Linked DNA regions of Homo sapiens: region 1 is linked to region 2. Evidence: fine-mapped expression QTL. Tissue or cell type: cerebral cortex. Region 2 holds a variant in brackets; the other region holds the start of a gene. All regions are shown on one strand. Distances are between the middles of the regions.

Region 1 (2,926 bases), 67 kb before region 2:
GAGTTAGCGTTAGTACTTGTTAGTTAGTGTTAGTCCCAGAGTTAAGACAAAGAGCAACTTTAAAGTACAGAATCTTTCCCAAGAAGAGTAAATAAATCCTCATAGCATAAATCAAATTTAATGTTTGACAGTTCACCAGTTTTTATCATCTTTACAACAAACTCAGGTAGCTCTCTAGTAATTTGCCTACTCCATAAGGGGGCATTTATTTACCTCTTTACTATTAATTCTCAGATCAATAGAAGAGACATAAACTTTGAAGAAAAATTCATAATTATACTTCTGCCAGTTCCCTTCAGATTAATTTAGTGAACAGGTGGACAAATTCTCTGTGTCCCTGGAGAACAAGTGAAATATAATGAAAAAAACAGATCTGGGCAAGTACAGAAAACTAACGCCCAACTGAAGTTTTAAAACTTATATTGCAAAAGTGTATGGGTATTGAGAAGAGATGAAAGGTTGAAAAGTAATTTGAAATATGCTCAGGCCATTGCAATATACCCCATTATGATAGGGATTGAGTTATGCGCCATCATACATCTCTCCCATGTCAAGGACTTTTGAAAGGATATTAAGAGGTGACAAGCACATGAACTTAAAAAATATTTTTATAAAGACTGCCACCCATTTGTTTGGCTAATAAAAAGTCAGTAAGACTTCTGCTGAACACTCCGTTCTATGTCTAAATAGCCCATGCCAGGTTCCACTTCACAGGTGTCTCATTCAGCATGCCAGCTGCCAGAATGCCCAAGCTAAGTGTACAACTGCCCGGCACAGAAAGTGTGCATGTTTTTTACTGGGTCATGAAAGTTAGCCTTTGCTCTCATCACCACAGAGAAAAGTCAGAAGATAGCCTGTCTTAGTCAGGAAAAGAAAGTACAGCCTGTAGGAAGCAATTTGAGGGTGTTCCAGATCACACCAACAGCGGATGCTGCATCTGGGTAGTTCACGTACCCGAACAAAAATTTTAAAAATTTGGTGTGGCCTTTGCCATCCATTCACTCCTCAAAAACTACCATTTGCTTTCCCAGAAAGCAAGCTTTCCAGCCCCACAGCCACGCCCCCACGAGAGAAAAAGTCGCACTCACCAAATAGTGACAGGACCCCACACACCGTCCAGATGGTCAGAGACATGCCCACGCTGCCCGTGTTCTGGAGCACGCCCTTAGGAGAGATGAAGATTCCTGCTCCAATGATGGTGCCAATGATAATGGAGACTCCCCTCAGTAAAGTGACTTTCCTCTTCAGCTGCACTTTCTCCTGCCCAGGTGGCTCCTTGTTGCCCAGGGAAGGCAGCCTCCCGTTAACATTTCCCTGCAGGTAACCTCCTTTGGAGATGGTGGACACAACAGGCTTTCTGACCATAGTAGGGACACACGGGGGAAAAATAAAACAGAGGGAAAGAAAACAAAACTTTCAACTTTGGTGTCTCTTGGTGTTACTGATCGATGTCTTCCTCTGCTTTCAGACTGTCTCTCTCAGCGCTATAGTGTTCACAGGTGAAAACTCAAAGGTGTGCTTTTTCCTTCACAGCGATCTAATTACTACTCAGAAACACCTGTGTATGCATCGTGCTCTCAATTCTCCACCTCCTCGTTCCACCACTGCTGCTGCTGCTGCTGCTGCCGCCCTATCATTACAAACCAGCTCAGCTTCCTCATGGGCTTGTATTTAAGCGCCTGCCTGTCACACCAACTTACTACAGCTAAATGATGATGCAAATTCTCCAGGTTTGCATCAGCCACATGAGAAGCCTCCAGCATTACTCAGCTCTTTTTTTTAAAAAAAGAAAAAAACAGGAGGAGCTTGTTGCTCAACTGACCTAAGCTTTTTAGAGAACAAAGCACACACTTTAAAGAGATTTTAGCCAATCCAGAAGTAGTAAATTCGGAACAGACCTTCCCAGAGATTTAAAGCAACTCGTAGTGAGCAACAAAAGCTGTTCAAACAAAATGAAACAGGAAATAGTTACTTCATTTTAAGGAGTTTCTTTTTCTTTAATGCGTGTATAAAAACATTTTACATGCGACTGTTTTGTGAGTAGAATGTATCCTAAAGCTACATTGTTTATAACAACACAGTTTGAATTTCATAATTTGTGTAATGCTTTTTATTTTTTTATTTTGAGTTTTTTATAAGGCAATACAGTCAAATCCAATATTTACAAAATTAAAGATTCTACACTTTATACTTCTGTCACATACACACAACTATAAGCCTTCCTCAACATTAAAAGATAAAATTATTTCTTACTACTCATAATAAACCAGTATTTTAAATCACCATCCGAGTGTGACTAATACAAAATTCACCATGACTCCAGAAAATAGTCATTTTCTGATTCTCATTAGCACTAGGTGATTTTTTTGAACTATGTAAAAGATACATATCCTTCATTGTCATGTTGTTCCTTTGAATTACCAAAAAAAATTTCTAAGTTCAAAATTACACAATTACAATTACATAAAAATATGTATATAGCAAAAGCCTGTAAAGGAAAACAGAATGGTAGTTATAGAAAGTAATGATATTATGTATGACTTTTTTCCACATTATATAAACTATTGTTATTATTATAAATTTAAAATGCATTAAAAATGTAAGCTAAATTAAAATATTTACTTTGCAATAGTCAAAAAGGCAAAACATTTTTAAACCCTTCTAACTTTCTCAACCAAGTGTCAAGAAAAAACAAATATGAAAAGAAAAGAAATCCTAGATATCATTTTTGGCTATAGTTACATGTGGTTTTGGATTCAGTGAGAAGAATTGAATGTTATCATTACCCTGAAGCTACCTTTATACGCACCATTAAATAAGCTTCTGAACCTTTGAACAAAAACCACAAACAAAAAGCCTGTGTGCGAGAGGTTGGCAGGGAAAGAAGGGAGTCAAGTATGGTGAGGATGATCAAAGAAAGAAATGA
Region 2 (2,926 bases):
AAAAAGGAGGAGGAAAGAGTGCTCTGGAAAATAGAAAACTATATGTGAATGTTCAAGAAAGAATATGCATCAAAGAAGGAATTAACCTGGAGTGAGAAGGAACACGATGTGGTGGAAAACTGCATGAGCCCAGAGTCAGGAGACCTTCTGTAGCCATTAAGTAGTGATGCCCATTTCCCATCCGTGAATGCAGGATGCACTGTATAACGCTAAGAATGCTAGCCAGCTTTAGTGTTCATATATTATTTAAGATCTCTTATGCAAATTTTTAAAATGATCACACTCTTATAATGAGATATGAAAAATAGATTGGGGATGACTAGATGTTGAGCTGCTAAAAGCCAAATCTATTTTTTTCTCATCTTTGCAATAACTCAAAGTGCCTAGCATGGTGAAATTATGTAAAATTGAACCAAGATATGCTTCTCTATACAGAAGGAATTTAACATGGAGTCACTCCACAAGTACTGGTTTTTCCAATGGAGAAATGAATAAGAATGGACTCGTTCTGTTAAGAGGAAAGCTCAATCTCCCATGGTGCAGAATGAAGCTGTCTGTGAAGTGCTCTGCAGAGTACTCAAACCGGAAGCCAGATCACGGAGGCCTGGCGTACCTGCAGCAGTGGCTCTCAAACTATTTTACCCCAAAATAAACTTGGTGATTTGTTTAGAATACAAGTTCCCTTGTTTTAGCTTCCTACAGTCTAATTGTGTTGCCCCAGGCAGAAGCGCATGAGTCAGATGTACACTCAAGTTTCATTGCCAGAACCACCAAGTCCTTGCCCCTGACGTTGGGTCTTTCCTGTGTTTTCAACCTTTCGTCTCACTTTAAACCCTACCTCAATCCTTGCTTCAACCACGTGGAAGTGGCTCAAACATACCAGTTTATTCATGCCTCCATGCCTTTGTTATCAGCCCTCCCTCTATTTTAAAATGCTCTTGCCCTTAAAATGCAGTGTTCTGTTTCCCAGGTAACTGCCCACACATATTTCAAGACTCATCTATTTTAAATTTCTTCTCTGCCTTTCTTGTTTAGACTTGACCGCTCACTCCTTAGTGTCTTTACTTTAACCCTGACCTGTGATGTAACCTATAAAACATTTCTCCACTTATTTTTTATACATTTCTTTCTTCTCTATTACAGTATTTGATACGATAAGCACTTAATAAATGTTTGCTAAATGGATAAATGCATGAATGTATGAATGAATGAGATACATTCTAAAACAGTGCCTAAAGCATGGATTCTGCAGTTAGACTGCCTGGTTTCAAATCCTTTCTCTATCACTTACCAGGTGTATGAATTTAGGAAAGTTACTTTAAGCCTCTGTCTCAGTTTCTCAATTATAAATGGGAATGATAATATAGTATCTGCCTCATGTAGCTGTTAAGAGGTTTTAAATAAACTAATATTTGTAAAGCTGTAAAGCACTTAAAAGAATGTCTGGAACATAGTGTTATCAGCGTTTATAAAATAAACGAATATACTACAGCAAAGATGATGAATGTTTAAATTTATATCTAGAAACAGAGATTGAGAGCAGAGACAAATCCACAAGACGTAAGAAGAAAAAAGTGATGGGCTTGATGATTGAGGAAGAAAAAGGACTGGAATGAAGTCTTGGGATTCCAATGGTCACTGGAAGGGGTCGGCAAGCTTCTTCCATTAATTCATTGCCTTTAATTATTTGATCATAGGAAAGGAGAGTCTGGCCTTGTGGAAAAACACACAATCAGTTTCATTAGAAAAGAGAGAGTCAGATGTTTTTAAAACAGCAACAACAATATGCCCTGAATAGTAGAGAAACAAAAGAGCGATTGATCTACAAAGGCAAGACCCAGATTGAGA[C/A]CACAGTGAACCCTGCAAAACAGAGGAGCCCCTGGGTGGGAGGGGATATAACTGGAACTCTGGGAATGTAACGGGCATGGTGTGCTTGTCTGATGGACAGGGCAGCTTAGGGGAATAAGTCTCTGCAGCGTTGTAGTGAAGAGAGAATACGGGACAACTGCAGGACCACAGCTCAGCCAAGAGTAAGCATAAATTTAAACATATTTCTTGATTTCTCTAAAGTCTCTCTTTTCTGTTAAATACAAATAATAATGCATGCTTCATTCAGCAAGTTATTGTGAGGACTAAATGAGACAGTATTGAAGTTACTATGTAACAGTAAATAAGGTACAGATAATCCTCAGTACAAGCACGATAGTGTGGGACTGCAAAGATGATTGCGCAAAGCAATCTTAATAATCAATGAGAAAACTAATGATTGGGCCTTGGCCTTTAAAAAGTTTTGCCAAAACATCAAAATCTTTCTTGCTGTCATTGACAAAGGTACAAGCAAATAAAAATAGTAAAACTAATACCTAGTACAATATAACTTAAAACATGAGAAATGTTTAAAACTGAAGTTACTTTTCATAAAAACTTATCAAAAGTAGTTTAAACCATGCTTGCCTCCTTGTCATGTAACTAACAATGTGGAGCACCATCTTTCTTTACGCACTGGCGAATTATCATACGCTTTTCTAAGTTCGGATCGGCTTCCCGCATTGTATTCTTCGTTCTTTCAGTGTCTTGAAACACCTCCAAGAGTTTTTTCTAACGTGAAAATTTTCTGCCAGCACTACTTCCTCTAGGACATCTTCATTCTGTTCATCACAACTACCTTTCTCATTTATGTTAAGTTCTCTTTTAGTAAATTTCTGTGGCCTCATACCTAGAAACTGAAATGACAGCAATGTCAATATTCCATAGTCAGCTGTCTTCTTATCGGATCTAATTTCACATCCAGCATTATTGCTTTTCATTTCTTGGCTGCACTTTCGTCTGTTGCACAATTCCTTCTTTTAATCATCCGTTTTGTAAAATGTCATGTGAGTTTATCATGGGAAGACATGGAGGCAACACAATTACATGCTTTGCTGGG

Alleles and levels. Positions count from the first base shown, and alleles are read on the strand shown. Sizes are in standard deviations (SD) of each study's normalised expression.
With allele A in place of C in region 2, the expression in cerebral cortex of the gene that starts at base 1,645 in region 1 is lower (small effect, 0.29 SD a copy in GTEx).

The links.
Region 1: it holds the start of SLC7A11, and the variant in region 2 is fine-mapped to the expression of SLC7A11 in cerebral cortex (GTEx, PIP above 0.99). The same link has a PIP of 0.9 or more in nucleus accumbens.

Annotation. Positions count from the first base shown.
Region 1 is chr4:138,240,705-138,243,630 of GRCh38, forward strand. SLC7A11 (solute carrier family 7 member 11) reads right to left here and starts at 1,645. Exons shown (of 12, transcript NM_014331.4): 1 at 1,089-1,645. The coding sequence starts at 1,365. RefSeq lists enhancers at 991-2,190, 1,660-1,899.
Region 2 is chr4:138,307,818-138,310,743 of GRCh38, forward strand. The region is part of intron 1 of LINC00498 (long intergenic non-protein coding RNA 498); the gene reads right to left. LINC00499 (long intergenic non-protein coding RNA 499) reads left to right here and starts at 1,894. Exons shown (of 3, transcript NR_051987.1): 1 at 1,894-2,030. The variant C/A (reference allele first, on the strand shown) is at 1,849.